Linked DNA regions of Homo sapiens: all the other regions are linked to region 3. The links come from fine-mapping of genetic effects on gene expression. A gene starts in region 3. Each other region holds a variant in brackets. All regions are shown on one strand. Distances are between the middles of the regions. Region 1 overlaps CIITA (class II major histocompatibility complex transactivator). Region 2 overlaps CIITA (class II major histocompatibility complex transactivator). Region 3 holds the start of CIITA (class II major histocompatibility complex transactivator).

Region 1 (10,367 bases), 52 kb before region 3:
CATTTCTGGGAGTCCCTCCTGGCAAGGGGCTTGGCTGGGTGGTTAAAAATAACTGCCTCTCCCACATCTCCATCACCTGCCCCAAGCATCACCCTGTGAAGCCGCCAAGGAGGGTTCCATTAGACCAGGGAGGAAACTGAGGCTTGCAGAAGTTCGATGACTCATCTCAGATACCCATCTATGAGGTGGCAGCATTGGGCTCCTGGCCACGCTGTCCTGATGTTTCCCCCAGTGAGGTGGTCTGCTGGAGGCGTCCCAGGGCGGTAGTGAATACGCAGCAGCGGATCAGATCAGCTCTCAGGGCCCCGACACCCCCTGAGCACCTACTGCTTTGCCCTTTTAACTGGCACAAGGCTCAGTTATACAGGCCAAGGGTATCAAGCTAGACTTCCTGGTTCCATTTTCATTGTATTTTTAGCATTGCCTTCTGTGTATGACAAATTCTACTGCTTTGGGTGTTATATGGTGACATAAATGATCTTATTAAAAAATTGGAGTTTAAAAAGTACATTGGTTTAAAATACTAAGTAAATAATAGTCCAGGTGGTTCTTGGATGTGGCAGGACCTGGAGGGAGGCACTGGGCAAGTGCTGCCCTTCCAGAGGGCTCAGGGAGTCTTGGGCGTGACCAGCTGGAGGCACGTGGTAGACCAGGCATCTTCACAAAGCCCGCTGCTGATCAGCTTTGGCAGCCAACGTGCAAATCCGAAGCCAGGTTTGAGAAAGTGGTCATCATTTCTCTGTGACGTTGGCTTTCCTCAGGGACATGGACCTGTGCAGAGACAGGCAGCTTCTCCTTTGCCGTCTGTCTCCTTCCGGCCACCAGGAGACAGCCAGACCCCAGCCATGCCTTCATTCTGAGATAAGGTAGAGACCCTCCTGCCACATAGCCTGTCACCAGCGTGGAGGATCAGAATGGCTGCGTGAGTAGGGGAGGGTGACGTCTGTCTTTAGCCACTTTAATTGATTTTTTGGTACATGGAGAAAGGAATGAGCAATGGGTTTCTAGAAGGCAAGGTCTTTGAAGGAGGAAAAGTGCTGCTGCTTTCAGAAGGCCCCTAGCCTTGAGAAGGTTCCCTGCCGGTATTGGTTTCTACCTGGGAACAGGTGGGGCTAAGGAGGGAAGGAACCACCCTGTACTGATGTCTCGTGTGTGCTGGGTATTGTCAGGCACTCCATGGACACAAACAGCCCAATGTGGTGGGCACTGTCCCCTTTTCCAGATGAGGAAACTGGCCCAGAGAGGGTGGGTGACTTGTCTGAGGTCACACAGCCAGGAAGGGGCAGAACCACAATCAGCACAGACAGGCTAAATGCAGATCTCACAGCATTTGCCCTGAGGAGCAGGACAGCGGGCAGCTGAACTCTAGGAAAGAATTCCCTTCTACCACTTTCAGAGCCTCACCCACCAGTGCGCGTAAAACGCCAGGGCCATCTTCTTACTTAAGCCACATCCTGAACCAGGCAGCTTCTCTGCAGAGTTACTGAGCTAAGACATTGCTTCACGAAGGGGATCTAGCACCCAACTGTCATTCTGACTACAGAAACCAGCCAGCCAGCCACGTCCTCTGTCCAGCTCTGGGGAATGGCTGGAATGAAAGGTTACAGTTTCAGAAAGGGGGAAAAAAATCTAGTGGCTGATAACTTGTCTGCTGTGCTCTGATGATGTCAGAAGGTTGGAGAACCTGCTGCCCTGGGTTCTATAAGCTCCAGCTCTGGGGTGCTTTTCAGCCTGGGGCTCTTGATGCCTTAGAAGAAACTTGTTCAATCCGTGGTGCGGCCTGTAGGCTGCATACAGCTCAGGACGGCTTTGACTGTGGCCCAACACAGATTCATAAACTTTCTTAAAACGTTATGAGATTTTAGCCTGGCCAACATGGTGAAACCCCATCTCTACTAAAAAATACATCAATTAGCCAGGCATGGTGACATGCGCCTGTAGTCCCAGCTACTCAGGAGGCTGAGGCATGAGAATTGCTTGAACCTGGAACTGCAGTGAGCCAAGATCATGCCACTGCCCTCCAGCCTGGGTGACAAAGCAAGACCCTGTCTCAAAAAAAAAAAAAAAAAAAGAATTTTTTTTTTGGTTTGTGTTTTTTTGTGTGTGTGTGTGTGATTTTGTTTTATTTTTTAGCTCATGAGCTATCATTAGTATATTTTATATGTGGCCCCAGACAGTTCTTCCACTGTGGCCCAGGGAAGCCAAAAGATTGGATACCCCCATCTCAGAGAAAAGGGACGAACCTGCAGTGCCGAGTGGTTTCGGCTTTGGGGTCAGGCCACGGGGGTTCAAATCCTGGCTCTGCCATTTATGAGCTGTGTGGCCTTGCACGGCTTGCTTAACCTCTCTGAGCTCCATGTGAAATGCAGGGATGATGGTCCTACTTGGCCCTACCTCCTAGAGTTGTTTTTGAGGGATAAGTGAGTTAAGACATGAGTTCGAGTAGTACAAGGTGAACACAAAGTAAATGCTTCATAACACAAGTGTTGTCACGATTTTCATTTAGCGTTTGCCAAGGCTGCCATTGCAAGACACAGGAGCGAAGGGGTTGATCTCTAATAGCCAAAGTGTGTGACAAATGAGAATTGAACTGTGTCCCAGAACATCCTCCCGCCCTACACATAGAAACCTGGGGTCACCTCCCTGTCCTCGACTCACTGTGTGACTTCAGGCAGAGGTCACCACCCTCTCTGGGCCCTTTCATTCTCTGCTATGGACTGAGTGGGACCAGCTTGGATCAAAATCCTCAAACCTCATACAACACTGTCAGCAGCTTTTCCTGTATCTGCCTGTTACCTGAACTATTAACAGTTTTCTTTAAATTGGCTCCTTTTAAAGTAAAATGTTTTGAAAAGAGAAACTTTTGTGTTTTTTTGAGACAGAGTCTCACTCTGTCACCTAGGCTATAGTGCAGTGGCGTGATCTCGGCTCACTGCAACCTCTGCCTCCCTAGCTCAAGCGATTCTTCTGCCTCAGCCTCCCGAGTAGCTGGGACCTCAGGCACCTGCCACCATGCCCAGCGAATTTTGTATTTTTGTTTGTTTGTTTTTAGTAGAGACGCGGTTTCGCCATGTTGGCCAGGCTAGTCTTGACCTCATTTCGCCATGTTGGCCAGGCTGGTCTCAAACTCCTGATCTCAACTGATCCACCCACCTTAGCCTCCCAAAGTGTTGGGATTACAGGTGTGAGCGACTTGGAAAAGAAAAACTATATTACTACCAGAAATGGAAACTTGGCATCACTTGCTATAAATAGAAGGTAACCCTACAGATAAACACAATGAAAACCGGAGTGTTAGTAAATTCCACGTGTAGCCCATTCAGACTGGAGATCTGCACACAAGAGGGCAGCTACAGCCAGACTAGCGCCTGGCTGGGACTGTCGGGGATGCGGTTTGTGGTCACAGGACTGGGAGAGGAGTGAGGTCCTCACCGAGTGATTCCATCTTCTCTTTTTTTTGAGACAGGGTCTCTGTCACCCAGGCTGGGTGCAGGGGCACAGTCATAGTTCACTGCAGCCTTGAACTGCTGGGCTCACGCAATCCTCCTGCCTCAGCCTTCCAAGTAGCTGAGACTACACTATGCCTGGCTAATTTTTAAATTTTTTATAGAGACAGTCTCACTGTGTTGCCCAGGCTGGTCTCAAACTCCTGGCCTCAAGTGATCCTCCCACCCCAGCCTCCCAAAGTGCTGGGATTACAAGCATGAACCACTCTATCCAGCTGATTCCATGTTCTCTAACACCCTATCCACACAAATCTGAGATGGGCTCAAGGATGACCACAGGCCTTGGAGATCTCTGCAGTGAGCATCTGTGCGGCTGAATCTGAGTAAAGGATTCTGCTTCAGGCTGCTGGCCAGCAGGTGTCTCAGGAGCAGGCTGGTGGAGGGCAGCTATGGAGAGACATTAGCTCTGCCTGCACTTACAGCCTGAGGACCAAGCAGGCTCTGGAGGCAGAGAAAGGCCTCAGCAAAGAAGGGCAGGTCGACCTGCAAGGAAGAGTGAGTGGAGGGAATGGGGCGGGGCACCCACAGCCTCTGCTAAGGTCTCATGGCACTTAGCAGGGTCCTCAGCGTCTGCTAAGAGCTCAGGAAATGGTACCTGCTCTCATTCAGACCGTTTCCATCGTTATTACCAAGCCAGTGCCAGCTTTGCCTCTCATAGCTGTGCATCTTTAGGCAGGTTACTTGGCTTCTCTGAACCTCAATTTCTTATCCTATTAAATGATAAGAACCTCAGTTTCTTATCCTATACGATGCATGGGTCTCAATGGAAACAGTTCCGCCCCCTTAGGTCGACCTTGGAAATAGGGTAGGAGGGCATTTTTAGTTGTTCCAGTGGCCAGGGGTGCTACTGGCATTTAGTGGCCTGGAGCCAGAGATGCTGCTAAATGCTCAGTGCCCAGAACAGCCACCCCACCTCCAAGAATTGTCCTACCCCAAATGTCAATAGCACCCTGTCAAACAACAATACATGTCACATGTTTAACATACAAGTTCTGCGAGATGTTCAGTGAAGTTTGCGGAAAGGATAGTGAGCTGGGAGATGAGGCTTGGAATCAGAGCAGGGCTTGAGGGGGCTGCAGAGGGGTTGGGCATGGGAACACGAGGTGCTACAGAGACACTGGCACCCGGCTAGGCACACAGAGAAGGCAGTGGGAAACGGGGACGTGCCAGGGGGCCAGGCCATGGAGATGATGCTGCATCCTGGGAGAAAGAGCCAAGTGGGGCTGCTGAGTAACTTGGCTGTGGCTATTGCCTTCCTGTAGGTTGCAAAGCATTTTTCCGGGCAAGGTGGAAGGTGTTGCCAAGCCCTGCCCACTACCCAGCGCTGGCTCAGCTGGCCCAGAGCTGCAAGTCAGCCCTCAGACCCTGGGTGACTCCTGAGCAGGCTGCACCAGCATCCCCCTCCTCCCTCCCAATAAACAGGACAGTCCTTCCTCTCCCGTGTGACATTGCACTGGTTCTCCAGCCCAGGGTCTCTGAGAAATTAGGCAAATTCATTAAAAAGAGTTTTATATTTGCAGAAAGACATTTTCAGCCTGAGTCTGGGGCTCCCAGTGGTTCCCTAAATTTGAGGGATGGAGGAAGACTTCCCTGCCCCACCCCAAGCCTCCCGAGCCTGGTGGATTGGTCCCTGTCCCCAGCCAACCTGGTGGCAGGGTGGGGCTTCCGTGCTAATAACCCCCCTTTTTCCTTCTTGTTAGACCTGCTCCCCTCAAAAGCTTCGTGCCAACAGAGAGGTTCCTGTTTGAACCCAGGAGAGTGGAAGAGAGATTGGGACTGAGTGCTGAGGTTGGGAAGGCACCTGCTCCCACAGAAGGGGGAACGCAAGAGGCATCCCAAGACCTCATCTGCCTGCAGTGTCAAATCGATGGCCTGGCCTTGGCTTCTGATTATTTGCAGCTGCGATGGATGTTTACAGGAACCCAGCCAGAGTTTGCCTCCCTGCACTTCATCCCGGAGCGCACCTGCTTCCCCCACTTCACCTTCGGAGAGGACACTTCAAACTGCGGACACACGCAAAAGCGACTCCCAGCTCCGTTTGATGTGAGTTGAGCCTTCAGGCCAGCTGGGTTTAGCCCGAGGCTGGTCTTAGATGCAGCGACTGTTTCAGGGGTGACTCAGAAGAAAAAGAAGCTGAGGAAGCTGTTGGGGGGCTGAGGGTGGGATTCTCGCTCCTTCATTTCAGGTTACTCGTTCTTCAGCAAGTTGGCAAAACAGACATCATGCTGGTGAGTGCCACGTTACTCCCCTGGCTGGAAATGCTTTTCTGAAAGTATGAGTGTTGTGCCTACTTAATTCTGATAAACCTGTCTAAGCAATACTTAGGAGGCTTACTTCTTTGGATTAAAAAAAAATGTATGCAACTCCAACCCCTGGGGCCCTGCCTTTTTTTTTAACTTTGAGATTCGGGAAAGGAGTTCTAGGCAGAACCTTGTGGCTGACAAACAGCAGAAGATCCAGTGGGGTTGAGAGAGTCTGCCCCAGTCGGGCTGGCGTGAAAGTCCCAGGCTGGCCCCCTGCCCCACTCCACAAGCCAGGGACAGCATTTGGGGTGTGGTGGGAAAAGCCTGAAGGCCAAGCTGGAAACCAGGCCTGAATCCCATAGAAGTGGGGGTGGGTATCCCCTGTGTCAGGCACATGGTAGACCTTCATTAAAGATAGGGGGGAAGGGCTTGGCATGGTGGCTCATGCCTGTAATCCCAGCACTTTGGAAGGCCGAGGCGGGCAGATCACTTGAGGTTAGGAGTTCGAGACCAGCCTGGCCACCACGGTGAAACCCCATCTCTACTAAAAATACAAAAAAATTAGCCAGGCATAGTGGCGCACACTTATAGTCCCAGCTACTCGGGAGGCTGAGGCAGGAGAATTGCTTGAAACCAGGGAGGCAGAGGTTGCAGTGAGTTGAGATCATGCCACTGCATTCCAGCCTGGGCAACAGAGCAAGAGAGGGATTAAATGAGTGGAATTGGGAGCTTGTAGTTTCACGGAATACAAGCAGTAATTCTCTCCAGTTTGCAGAGCACTTGATTTCAAAGCACCTTCACATACACACCAAGTGAAGCAGGGTTCAAACGATTGACCCCTTTCTACAGGC[G/A]AGGAGACTGAGGTGTGGGAGAGTACAGGCGGCAGAACTCTGGGGGGAGACAGTTGGAGCACCACTTGCCCTCAAGTGATGCTAAAGAAAGAAAAGCTACGAAATCTGAAAAGAAGACATTTGAGAGCCCCAGGGAAAAAGGTGAGCGTCAGGAGGGAGACATTTGTATGCAGAGAGAGGCCTGCGAGGAAGAGTGACCATTTGGAAGGTGCGTGGACTTACAATCCACTGGACATGGAATTGCACTATCATGCCCTGATTCCTCCGAGCAGCGCTTTACCACCTGACAAATGGGGTTCAGGGGCACTTCCGGCACACTGTGCCTGTCCCTGCAGAGAGGTCCTCCAAAGAAGTCAGAAGTCCATTCCTTTATAGGAGTGTGACTATAAGTATCACTTAGATCTGTGACACGGAGACAGTAATTTATCCACATCTTACGATGACTGTGCGTTAACTACGAAAAGATGCCCCTCTGGGTTAAAAGGCTCCACACCAGGACTCCCAGTTTGGCAAGCAGAACCCAGACTGGTTTGCAGCCCCCATGTTCCCCCTTGTCCCAGGTGCCTTTGTGCAGTGTACAGACTGGCCAACCTCACCTGGCAGCCCTGTCCAAAGAGTTTTTTTAATTTGCTAAAATATAAGACTCACCAGGGCAGGAACATCTTATTCATGACTGTGCTGTCAGTATGTATTTGCAGAATGAATGAAACCGTTAGGTGAGGATTATTTGTTCATTTTATGTTATTGAGCACCTATTATACACAGGCGCCTTGCTGGGTACAGAGGGCACAGCAGTGTACAAAGCGAGATGTTTCCCGCCCTCCTGGAGCTCATGTCCTAGGACAAGAGCAGACTGCATAAATAAGTGAAAAAGATAAAACTAGTGATGGGGTTGGAGAATGGGGCAAGTCCCGAAGGATGAGAAATCAGCCATATGGAGAGCTGGGAAGAACATTCCAGCCAGAGGCAAGAATGAAACACAGATATATGTAATAATGACAGCCAACATGTTATTGAGCTCCAATTCTTAACGTATTAGCTCACCACACCTTCACATAATCCTATAAAGAAGGTGCTGTGGTTATGCCCATTTTACAAATGAGGAGACTGAGGCACAGAGAACTAGCTTGCATAAGTAAGTGGTGAGGTGGGCGTTGAGCCCAGGCAATCTCGTTCTAGAGTCTCTGCCACTTGCCCCTAGACTCTTATCCCTCTTGAGTAGGAGTTTAGCACAGTGTCTGGCACACAGTCATCACTTATTGAGCTAATACTTTCTGAGCGCTTTGAATTTCCCTTGCACTGTGATAAGGGCTTTGCATGTATCTGCTCATTAAATAAACAGTAGTGGCCGGGTGCGGTGGCTCACCCCTGTAATCCCAGCACTTTGGGAGGCCAAGGCAGGCAGATTACCAGCCTGGCCAACATGGTGAAACTCCATCTCTACTAAAAATACAAAAATTAGCCAGGCGTGGTGGTGCATGCCTGTAATCCCAGCTACTTGGGAGGCTGAGGTGGGAGAATTGCTTGAACCCAGGAGGCAGAGGTTGCAGTGAGCCGAGATCATGCCACTGCACTCCAGCGTGGGCAATAAGAGTGAAAACTCTGTCTCAAAAAAATTAAATAAAATAATAAACAGTAGCTATCATTAACAAATCGTTAGTGTTAATAACTGCAGGCTCTGACCTCATTTCATCATCACACAGACCAAAAGCAGTGGGTCAGACCAAAAACCTGGCACATGGCACAGTGGATGATCAGAGCACACCTTAGTGCTCACTCCTGTAGGCGCACACACAGGAGGCCCATGGCCTCTGTAGAGTCTGCAAGTGCAGGGATCCCTTGCAGGGTGACACCTGAGCTATTTACAAGCTGAACCTGGATGGCAGCACCTGATACCCTTTGCAGCCAGTTCGAGGCAGGAGGTGCTTGCCTGTCTGCAAAGATCATCAACCACGCAGCCGGGTCTGGATTCCTCAGACCCTCTTGACACCCAGCTCTCACTTGCTGGGGAGAGGAGCAGAGCTTGGGAATCAGACTGATCCTGTGGGCACTGGGGCTGGTGAGCTGGAGCTGAACAGGCAGCTCCCACTGCCACCAGGAGTAAGCTAAGATGTCTTGAATTGGGGCTTCTGAGCAGACTATGCCCGAGTGAAAAGCAACAGTCGTGCCGGCAGCTCGCTGGGTAGAAAGCGGAGCTTCCAAGTCCCTTTCGGACTCCCTGCAGCCAAGGTGGGACTCCGTCTCCGCTAAAAACCAGCTCACTCCCAGGACAGAGCTGTGTGTCAGAGGCAGAGGCAAACATTCCCCTTGGTAAGCTTTTGGTGCTTCAACCTTTCTCATCCCCAAACAATTAATTTTCCACTGAATTTTAGGAAGCCACAAAGAAAAGTCCTCTCAGAAAAGAGGACTTGAGCCAAGGTGGGCTCTGGTGTGTGCACGCGTGTGTGTGTATGTGTGTGTACGTGCACACACGTGCATGTGCACATGTGGTGAAAGGAGGGTGGGTAGGACAGTAGCAATCCTTGTCACACTGGCCAACAGAATATGGCAGAAGTGGGCTGGGTGTGGTGGTTCACACCTGTAATCCCAGCACTTTGGGAGGCTGAGGCAGGAGAATCACTTGAGGCCAGGAGTTCAAGACCTGCCTGGGCAACATAGTGAGACCCTGGCTCTACAAAAATAAAACTAAAGATTAACTGGGCTTGGTGACTCACACCTGTAGTCCCAGCTATTCGGGAGGCTGAGGTGGGAGGATCACTTAGCCCAGGAGGTTGAGGCTGCAGTGAGCCGTGATCATACCACTGCATTCCAGACTGGGCGACAGAGTGAGACCCTGCCTCTTAAAACATATATATGTAGCAGAAGTAATACTGTGTGACTTCTAAGGCTAGGTTATGAAAAGTGGTCTCTCTCTATCCCCTCCTTTCTTTTTGGGACACCCTCCAACCCAGCCACCATACTATGAGGAAGCCCAACTAGCCCACATGGAGGGGTCCTAGCCAACTATTCCGTAGTGGCACTGAGGCCCCCAGCCAACAGCCAGCATTGCCTGTCAGACGTACAGAAGAATGAGTCTTCAGGTGACACCAGCCCAACCCTCAAGCTGCCCCACCTGACACAGAGTAGGACAGAAGGAGCTGTCCCCGCTGAGCCCTGCTCAAATGACAGATATGTGAGCAGAATAAATGTGAGTGTTGTTTTAAGCCACTATGATTTGGGGTGGCTTGTTACATATTAGATAACCAGAGCAGTGGGTACCCCAAAATGGTAACAGGGTATGAACTCAAACCCTGGACCTGCCTGTGACATTAAAGAGACATTTATAATGTAGTGAAAAAAGACACAGGAAATGAAGCTGTGCTTCCAGTCTGTTCCCCTCTCACCGCCCCATTAGTGTCCCATTAGCTGTTTCCCTGCTAAGGGCTGGTGCATCTGGCCAGGCCTAGCTTTGGCTTTGGCCAACAATGTCAGTGCATTGAGTCCCATAGACAAAAGCAGCTGCCACTGAAGCCCAGCCTGTTGCAATCTGGGGAATTAGCAGGCTGGGGGTTGCCCATCAGTGTCTTCTGAGTGCCCGGTGTGCCCTGTCAAGGTGTCTGGTCGGAGAGCAGGGTGGAGAAGTACTTTCTCTGTGGCCCGGTGCAGTGGCTCACGCTTGTAATCCCAGCACTTTGGGAGGCTGAGGTGGGTGGATCACCTGAGGTCAAGAGTTTGAGACCAGCCTGGCCAACATGGCAAAACCCTGTCTCTACTAAAAATGAAAAATT
Region 2 (5,000 bases), 36 kb before region 3:
TTAGCTTCTTAGGAACTAAGCCCCTGAGGCTTGGCAACTTCCTTAACCTCCACTGTAAAGTAGGACTATGCTCCCCAATCCCTCCCCAGCTGAATTGCTGAGAGCAGCAAATGAGGTTGTGAGGAAAGGAGTTTCAAAGGTCACGAAAGGATCTACAACTTTTTTTGTCACTGGGGATTCCCATCTGATGTGGCGTCATCTCATCACTCATGTGCCAGCCACATTGAGGATGCAGTAGGCGGAAGAGAGAAAAAAAGGGACAAAGTGAGGGCTTTTCTTTCTGCAGGTGCCTTGGGGGCAGGATTTGGGGTTGTCAAAACCCAGAGGTTGCTGGGCACTGTAGCATGCACCTGTGGTCCCAGCTACTCAGGAGGCTGAGGCAGGAGGACTACTTGAGGCCAGGAATTCGAGGCTGCAGTGAGCTATGATCACAGCACTGCACCCAGATGTTGAGAGGAAGGGGTCCCAGAGTCTATACTCACTCCAGATGCTGCAGGGAGGAAAAGGCCGTGAGGATCCGCACCAGTTTGGGGAAAGCCTGGGGGCCTGAGACAGGGCCCAGCCTAGGAGGCAAAGAGCAAGGGTAAGACCTCCAGTCACAGTCACAGCCCCTCATTCAGCCCCAGGGTGGGGCAGAGACAAGGCACAGAAGTCAGGTCCTGTCTGAGGCCCCTCCTCTTCCCTTCCACCCCAGCCTCTTAGGTCCCTGCAACCCTTCCACGTAGGACCCCAATCTTTTCTGCTTGGGGTAGATTTCATAGCCCCCCATAAGAGGCCAGTTGAGGCTGGGAACAGTGGCTCATGTCTGTAATTCCAGCATTTTGGGAGGCCAAGGTAAGAGGACTGCTTGAGCCCAGGAGTTCAAGACCAGCTTGGGCAACATAGTGAGACTCAGTCTCTACAAAAAACACAATAATTAGCCAAGTGTGGTGGTGTGTCCTGTGGTCTCAGCTTCTTAGGAGGCTGAGGTGGAAGCATCGCTTGAGCCCAGGAGGTGGAGGATGCAGTGAGCCATGATCACACCACTGCACTCCAGCCTGGGTAAGAGCGAGACCCTGTCTCAAAAAAGAAAAAAAACAAAAAAAGAAAAGAAAAAGAGGTAAGTTGGGCTCCCATCTTGGGGCTCCCCAGCTTTTGTCTCTAAGTAGGGAGCCAGTTCTTACTCTTCCCAACATCCACAGATACCCTTCTCCCGCCGCAGCCTGGGGAAGGGGTCCTGAAATGCCAGCTGACGACCACTGCCAGTGGTAAACCAGGTGGTTGACTAATATGCCTTTGCATTTTAATAACAAAAGGAACCATTTGTTGAGCATTTATTATAAGCCAGGGGCATGCTAGGCCCTTCCCTCGGCCTAGATCTCATTTACTCCTCAAGACTCTGAGCTATGGGCTCTTATCTCCATTTTACATATAGGGAAACTGAGGCACTAGGCGATCAAATAGCTCACACAGGGTCACACAGCCTGGATCAACATTTAGAGCAGACTTCAAGGGGATGAGAAAAATAAGGACAACGAAGGGCCGTTTAGTTTAAAAATATGGTTAAATGCATTCCATATAAAGAGCTGTCTTTTATTCTGCAATTATGTCCTTTGAACTTTTTCAATATTAGAATGATCATTCTTTGGTAAAATTATGGTGCCAGCAGTGGGTATTTTGTTGTTATTTGTTTGTTTGAATGAGCATCCTTGATAAACATTAAAAAACAGTAACCGCGCACGGTCACTCGAATTCATTCCGAAATGTTCTCGGCCTCTGAAATCCTGAAGTCTGAGAACACTGGCCTCAGCAAAAGGCCACAGGATCAGAGTTTGACTCCAGGATCTGGCATTTGGCTCCCTGCTAAAGGCCTTGGCAAATCCCTTCACCCTTAAGTCTTGATCTCCTCAAATATTTCACCCCAATCTTATGGGGGTTCTTGGATTAAGGCATTCGTTGTTAAATATTGACCGCTTGCCTACTATGTGCCAGGCCCAGGGAGGAAAGTTGTGGGCCAAACAGACGAAAATCCCTGCCTTCTGGGTGCTGACATTCCAGGGGGGAAGATAGACAGATAATCAAAGAAATCGGAAAGCAAGCTGATGTCTGAGACAATGAATCATATGGAAATATACAGTGGTGAGGGGGATGGAGTTTTTTTTTTAACCATGAGGGGAATGGAGTTCTATTTATTTATTTATTTATTTATTTTTGAGATGGGGTCTCACTCTGTCATCCAAGCTGGACTGCAGTGGCGTGATCTCAGCTCACCGCAACCTCCGCCTCCCGGTTTCAAATGATTCTCCTGCCTCAGCCTCCCAAGTAGCTGTGACTACAGGCACCTGCCACCATGCCCAGCTAATTTGTTTTGTATATTTAGTAGAGATGGGGTTTCACTATGTTGGCCAGGCTGGTCTCAAACTCCTGGCCTTGTGATCCACCTGCCTCGGCCTCCCAAAGTGCTGGGATTACAGGCATAAGCCACTGCGCCTGGCCAGAGTTTTATTTTTAACTGTGAGGGTCAGAAAAGACCTCACTGAGGCCGGGTGTGGTGGCTCACGCCTGTAATCCCAGCACTTTGGGAGGCCGAGGTGGGGGGATCACGAGGTCAGAAGATTGAGACCATCCTGGCTAACACGGTGAAACCC[C/T]GTCTCTACTAAAAATACAAAAAATTAGCCAGATGTGGTGACATGTGCCTGTAGTCCCAGCTACTCGGGAGGCTGAGGCAAGAGAATCACTTGGACTTGGGAGGAGGAGGTTGCAGTGAGTCGAGATTGTGCCACTGCACTCCAGCCTGGGTGACAGAGCGAGACTCCACCTCAAAAAAAGAAAAAGAAAAAAGGAAAAAGAAAGAAAGAAAGGGAAAGAAAGAAAGAAAGGAGGGAAAGAAAGAAAGAAAGAAACAGGGAAAGAAAGAAAAGAAAAGGCCTCACTGAGTAAAGACCAGAGGAGGTGAAGGCATGAGCCATGCAGATATCTGGGGAGAAGTATTCCAGGCAGAGGGCACAGCCGGTGCAAAGGCCTGGAGGCAGAAGCATGCCTAGGAGGTTGAAAGCCAGCAAGGAGGCCCTGTGGCTGGAATGGAGAGAGCACCCAGCGAGTGTAGGAGATAAGGGTGAACAGGTGAGTGGGGACTGAACTGGGGAAGGACTCTGTGTACAAACGAAGTCCCTGTAGGGTTGTGAGTGGCTAAGAACCCTGATTTGACAGACAGATGAGGTCTACAGGGTGCCTGGGCACAGTAGAAGCCTGAGAAAATGCCAGAAATAGTCTTTTCCTTCCTTCCTTCCTTCCTCAGAACCTCCTCGGGGGCTTCCGGTCTCCAGGTGGCTGATCACCCGGCTCTAGGCTGTTCCACCCCATGGCCGCTGTTCCCCAGAGCGCAGTTCCGATCTTGAACTAGGGGCTTTTTCAGCTGAAAATAATTTAAGGCCAGAAAGGGCCCTCAGTTATTGTTTTCAGACATTTCCCCTTTTCAGCATCATTTTTACCTCTGGACAAATTTAGCACCTTGTCTCTGTTCAAAACAAGAGACACTGGCTTTTTTCTGGGGCACAGGGGAGCAGTGATCAGGGAGAGCTGATAGCTTGTGGGTGACCAGCTGGGGGACCACGGGCAAGTCACTTAACCTCACCAGGCCTCCGTCTCCTCATCTGTAAAATGGGGAAGATGATGACTGTCTGTCTTCCACAGTAGCTCTTGAGATTAATGAGATTATATATAAAATGCACTGAATTATAAGCTGGGCATGGTGGCTTACACCTGTAATCCCAGCACTTTGGGAGGCTGAGGTGGGAGGAACATCTGAGGCCAGGAGTTCAAGACCAGCCTGGCCAACATGGTTAAAGCCCGTCTCTACTAAAAATACAAAAATTAGCCAGGTGTAGTGGTGTACACCTGTAATCCCAGCTACTCGGGAGGCTGAGGCAGGAAAATTGCTTGAACCGAGAGGTGGAGATTGCAGTGAGCCAAGATCATACCACTGCATTCTAGCCTGGGTGACAGAGCAAGACCCCATCTCCAAAAAAAAACAGCACCGAATATACCACAGGCATAACAACTCCTTCCTAATCATTAGATGATCTAGACCCCTACCAAGGAACAAACATTCATTTAGCTTTTTCTGTGGAAGGAGCTTAGGGCCAGGCTGACCTGACCTTTATGACTTTGGATAAACAATTTAAAGTCTCTTGTTCTCAGCATTGCCATTTGTACAATGGGGAGATGATGACAATGCCTGTAGAGGAGGGTGGCCTGAGATAATTGAGATGGAAGGTGAGCTGCAAATTTAAAAGCCTGTTCTGGCCAGGTGCGGGAGCTCGCACCTGTAATCCTAGCACTTTGGGAGGCTGAGGTGGGAGGATTGCTTGAGCCCAGGAGCTCGAGACCAGACTGGGCAACATGGTGAAATCCTGTCTCTACAAAAAATACAAAAATTAGTCAGGTGGGGCATGCCTGTAGTCCCAGCTACTAGGGAGGCTGAGGTGGGAGGATCACTTGAGCCTAGGGAGGTTGAGGCTGTGGTGAGCTGTGATTGTGCCACTGAACTCCAGCCTGAGGGACAGAGTAAGACTCTGCCTCAAGAAAGAAAAGAAAAGGAAAGAAAAGGAAAGGAAAAAGAAGGAAGGAAGAGAAGGAAGGGAGGGAAGGAAAGAGAAAGAAAGAGAATGGAAAGAAAGAAAGAGAAAGGAGAGAAAGGAAAGAAAGAAAAGAAGGAAAGAAAGAAAGAAAGAGAGAGATAGGGAGGGAGGAAGGAAGGGAGAGAGAGAGAGAAAGAAAGAAAGAAACAGAGAGAAAGAAAAAGAAGAAAAGGGGGAAGAAGGGAGGGAGGGAAGGAAGGAAGGAGGGAGGGAGGGAAGGAAAGAAAAGGAAGGGAAAGGAAAGAAAGAGGAAAGAAAGAGAGAAAGAAAGAAAGAAGAAAGAAAGAAAAAGAAAGAGAGAAGAAAGGAAAGAAAGAAAGAAAAGCTATATTCTGACAGATCTAAATATAATAATTATTGTGCTTTCTTGGGGCCCATGTA
Region 3 (5,000 bases):
GACCCTGCCTCCAAACGCTCTGAGATTGTTGGAGACCAGGTCATCCCCTAAGGGAGCCGGGGGTTTGCAAGGTGATCATTTGTTGGAGTCAAGTTCCTTTGGCTCCTCTTTCTCCAAGAGGAAGAAGTACCTGTTTCCTTAATCTCACTCCGGAGAAGTATTTATTTATTTTTTCTCTGGAGTGGGGAGCAGAAACGGAAGACTTCCTGCCAAAGTTAGACACTCCAGGCTGCGGCTGGGGAGGGAGCCATGCCTTGAACTTCTAGGCTTTTGCCACCTCTCCTGTGCCACCTAGGGTGGAGAGGGGCTGTGGGACTCAGGAGGACCGCGGCTTTTAAGAGTTCCAGACTAAGCTAAGCATGGTGGCTCCGATTCCGGCTTTCCTGGACCCCAGGGAGATCCAATCTCCCACTCCCACCCCGGCATTCGCACGCTGGCTTTCCGGGGCGCTTTAGCCTCTCTCCTTAGAGGGTGTGACTCAGGGCCCCAAAGCGAGGTAGAGAAGTGAGAGATCAAGAGATCGGTTCAGTCCGGGGGGATCCCTCCCCCACCCCTCCCAACAACACACACCTTCGCCAAGATGTTCAACGAGAGTTGAGGACTTATCCCATCCTCTGGTTAAAGGTTTGGCTCCCTACTGCCTCCCTGAGCAGGGCCCCCCGCCTGGAGAGCCCAATACCCAAGATTCCAGAGTTAGAGATGGAATATGACCCAACAGGGAAAGTGAAGCTCAGGGAACGGCGGCCCTGGTCCAAAGTCTGGCGTACAAGAAGGGCGCGCACCTCTGCAGGATCCCGGGCGCGCGGAGTCGGCCAAGGGTGGCCGGGGGAGTGTGTCTGCTCCGCGCTCCCAGTCTGCGCTCCGGCTTCTCTGCAGAAGCTGCCGCCAGGCTTTCCTGCCACCCGCCCACGGCCCCGGAGCTCTGGGCACAGCAAGCCAAGCTCCGGGTTCCCGGCTCCTGGTTCCCGCGCAGAGTCGTTGCGGGGATGCTGGAAACGAGGTGTTTCCCGGCCCTACATTTTGCATATTCCATCCCCCCATCCTCCCAGACTTGCTGTGTGACCTTGAGCAAGTAGCTGACAGTCTCGGAGCCTCGATTCTCAGCCCGACCTTAGGGGTTACAGAGGAGACTTTGGTCACCTACCGCTGTTCCCCGGGCTCCCGCGCGCGCTGCTGGTGGCCTCTCCCTCCCGCCAGCTCTGGGGCCGCGGCAAGTCTGTGGCAGCTCGTCCGCTGGTCATCCTACCTCCCCGCCTCCCCGCAGTTCTTTTTCCCTTTCACTTTCTTTCTGCAGCGCTGAGCTCGGGCCAGGCTGTGGAGCAACCAAGCACCTACTGTGGCCACCACGTGCTTTATCAGAAGTGGCATCCCAACTGCCTGGGGCATCCAAGAGGTCCCTGCCTCCAGTCGGTTCCTCACAGTGGCCAGCCCCACTTCGGGGAGAGTCCCAGGCCCCGGGCCAGGAGCCAGGAGCTAGGGAGCCACTTGGGCAAGTGATCTGCAAGTCCTGAGTTGCAGGGAGCTTGTCCCCACCCCTGGGTGGGTCTCTGTTTCTCTCCAACTCAGTCCAACCGTGAAAGTGGCAAACCACCTCCGAGGGCACATGGCCCCTGAGATGAGCTAACTGAGCTATTCACTCCTCTGATGCTGGCCCTAGGGAGGAAGAGAAAATCCCTCAGGTACCTTCCATGGATGGAAAACCTGTGTTACCATGACCACACCCCCAGCCGTGGCAAGAGCCCTGCCGGTCCTTTTCAGAGGTCTTGGATTCCTGCTGGGTCCTCCAAGGCATGAGACTTTGAGGTGGTCACTTTCCCTTTTCAGGCCTGAATTTCCTCATCTGGAATTGAGGGAGGGGGCAAGGTTACCTCTGACTTCTCCCCCTCCAACACTTTCCCGTAGCAACTTAAGGCTGCACCCAACCACACCGGCAGACCTGTCATCAGTCTCTGGGTTCAAAGCAAACCATACATTTCAGGGGAGTCTGAGAAAAGGGATACCACCCCTTTAACCATCCAACAACAGCAATGCCAATAAAATTGAGCTCCTATGAGCTCAATTCCAGTTCCTATAAAATATTGGACACTGTGCTAGGTCCCTCATCATTACCCTTTCATACAGGCTTTCCCACAGGTCCATTGTACACTCCAGGAAAATTGACTCGAGAATGTAAACGACTTCTTCAGGGGCACACCCTTCCCAGCCAACGGTGTAGCTGCCATGCTGCCTTCAGAGCCGGTGCCAGGTGTCTGCACTGTGCTCTTCCCACCATCTGTTCCCCCGTCCCCTGACCCTTTTTAAACAACACCATTAGGAAACTGGGGGGAGGGCAGCATCCGCCAGCTCTCCCCAGCTGCTGAGGGCTCAACAGCTACACCTCAAGGCTGACTCCAATTTTGGTTTCCCTGCTTCTCTGGGTATGGAGTGGAGTCTGGCAGAGGTCCCGTCCTGCAGAGGCACCCCTCAGTATTTACCCAAAGGGAGGCGAGAAGACCTTGCTGTGGGCCGAGCCAGGCCAGCATGCTGAGAGTTAGTGACACACTGCCCGAAAGTCTGACTTCTAGAACCTTTCGGTGCTGATACATGGTTCATACTCCAGACACCTGGCTGACCTGAAGTCTCCCTCCGGTGGAAGGAAATAGACAACTCTTTCACATCTTCCAATGGCCTGCCCCAGCAGGACACAGACTCCTGTTCCCATCCTCACCCCCATCCCCAATTCAGAATGGTTTCTCTGTTTATCTGGAATGGCAGGACCAGCTGAGACTGCACGCTAAATTAAGATGCTTTCCCGGCCTTTTTACCTTGGGGCTCTGACAGGTAGGACCCAGCAGGGCGTGGAGCCAGGCAACGCATTGTGTAGGAATCCCAGCCAGGCAGCAGCTCCCGGAGTCTGGCAGCCCCTCCTCGTGCCCTCAGCTTCCCCAAGGATGCCTTCGGATGCCCAGCTCAGAAGCACACAGCCTCATCACTAGCCTCATCACTAACCAGTCACCAGTTGGGAGCCCGCCAAGCTAAGCCAACATGCAAAGAAACAAGTGAGGGATCATCAAAAAAACTCTCCCTGCAAGGTGGCCCCAAGCGGTCAGATTTCTGTTTCTGAACACCCTCTAATTTTACCACACTCCCTTAAGCCCTCCCCACACCTCTGAAATTAATTTCACTTCCTTACTGTGGACTGAATTTGGTGAAGACAGAAAGTTGCACAGAAAGTCTGTTGGGGGAACCTTCAACAGTCTGACGTTCAGAAATGATGATCACAATGGAACCGCACTGGTGCCAGCTGCCAATATCTGCCACCTTCTGCAGGATGGGGCCAGTATCATAGCCCTCCGCCCAGATGCCTCAAGACAAGCTGAGAGCCTCTGCTGGGGACTTCTTAGATGCTGCTCTCCTCTACCATGCCTACTCCCACACCAAATTGCCCTGAATTTCTCTGGAGATCATAAGTGGCCCACCTGTCATTTTCATCCCAAGACATTGGACTAAAACATAAATTATACCAAAAGAGTGTTAACCCAAATATGGTACCCTTGTAGTCAGATGGTTTGGGGTGACCCGCCAAAGTGATGCTAAATAATACTGACTCCCATAGGGAGAAAGTTAGTGTCTTTTCCAGTCTCTGCCCATCCTCCTGGTGGTATCAAGGAGGAAGTCTCAGCTTGGTGTGAACATGTCTTTAACACCTCTTCTAATATATGATCACTCTGTTTTATAGAAAGCAGCTCTCTAGCCTCAGAGCCTTCTACAGTCAACAGTATCTTGCTATAATCTAACATCACTCTGCTTTCTTGTTAAATGGTTACCTCCTGTTTTTGCCATTTTTTCCCTTTATAATGGGACGTAAAGTTTTATTTGAATATAAAGTAGATGGCTGGGCCAGGTGGCTTGTGCCTGTAATTCCAACATTTTGGGAGGCCGAAGCAGGAGGATTGCTTGAAGCCGGGAGTTGGAGGCTAGCCTGGGCAACATAGTGACACCCTATGTCTACAAATTGTTGGGGTTTTTTTTGTTTGTTTTTGTTTTTTTTTAGACGGAGTTTCACTCTTATTGCCAGGCTAGAGTGCAATGGCATGATCTTGGCTCGCTGCAACCTCCGCCTCCCGGGTTCTGGGTTCAACTGATTCTCCTGCCTCAGCCTCCCGAGCAGCTGGGATTACAGGCACCTGCCACTATGTCCAGCTAATTTTTCTTTTCTTTTCTTTTTTTCTTTTTTTGAGACGGAGTCGCGCTCTTTCGCCCAGGCTGGACTGCAGTGGCGCTATCTTGGCTCACTGCAAGCTCCGCCTCCTGGGTTCACGCCATTCTCCTACATCCAGCTAATTTTTCTACAAATGATTTTTTAAAAATTAGCCATGTATGATGGTGCACAACTATAGTCCCAGCTACTCTGGAGGCTGAAGTGGGAGGATCGAGTGTGCCCAGGAGTTGGAGGCTGCAGTGAGCTATGATCATGAAATACACTCCAGCCTGGGCAACAGAGTGAGATCCTGCCTCTCCTAAAGAAAAAGAAAAGAAAGATAAGTAAAAAAGGTGAGTGGTTAAAAAAAACCCTGTCATAAATAATAGTAAAGTGTTATGTGGAAAACACAAAAATGATGAAGGTGGTACTGAAATGAAGGTTTGGAAACATGACTTGTGTGCCTCATGCATTTTTGCTGAAAGAGCACTGGACGGGGAACTTAGTAGCAGGTGTGTGACCTTGGCCTCTTTACTTCCTCTCTGTGGTCCTCAGTTTCCCCATGTGTGAAATGAGGATGATGCCCTTCTTTGTAAGGTGATTACTTTGAAGCCTTCACTGTTTTCAGAAGTCCCCGGGTGAGGAGTGGGGTAGAAATTGACAAATAAGAAATGCTGAGTCAATTTGAAACAGCCTTGCTTAGTGGGGCTAACAAACGGATATGGTGAATGTCAGAAATTCTAAGAATGACCAGGCACAGTGGCTCATGCCTGTAATCCTAGTCCTTTGGGAGGCTGAGGTGGGCAGATCATTTGAGGTC

Evidence for each region.
Region 1: its variant is fine-mapped to the expression of CIITA in whole blood (TOPMed, PIP above 0.99).
Region 2: its variant is fine-mapped to the expression of CIITA in whole blood (TOPMed, PIP above 0.99).

Annotation. Positions count from the first base shown.
Region 1 is chr16:10,924,399-10,934,765 of GRCh38, reverse strand. CIITA (class II major histocompatibility complex transactivator) reads right to left here. Exons shown (of 20, transcript NM_000246.4): 20 at 1-10,367. It overlaps DEXI (Dexi homolog), which reads left to right. Exons shown (of 2, transcript NM_014015.4): 2 at 5,207-5,875. Among named protein-coding and RNA genes, the nearest start is that of DEXI, 13 kb to the left of the region's middle. RefSeq lists an enhancer at 4,094-4,143. The variant G/A (reference allele first, on the strand shown) is at 6,601.
Region 2 is chr16:10,911,133-10,916,132 of GRCh38, reverse strand. CIITA (class II major histocompatibility complex transactivator) reads right to left here. Exons shown (of 20, transcript NM_000246.4): 14 at 483-563. Among named protein-coding and RNA genes, the nearest start is that of DEXI, 29 kb to the left of the region's middle. RefSeq lists an enhancer at 3,676-3,725. The variant C/T (reference allele first, on the strand shown) is at 2,628.
Region 3 is chr16:10,875,187-10,880,186 of GRCh38, reverse strand. CIITA (class II major histocompatibility complex transactivator) reads right to left here and starts at 2,985. Exons shown (of 20, transcript NM_000246.4): 1 at 2,805-2,985. The coding sequence starts at 2,856. RefSeq lists enhancers at 362-441, 1,012-1,131, 1,212-1,261, 2,682-2,731, 2,772-2,851 and 2 more.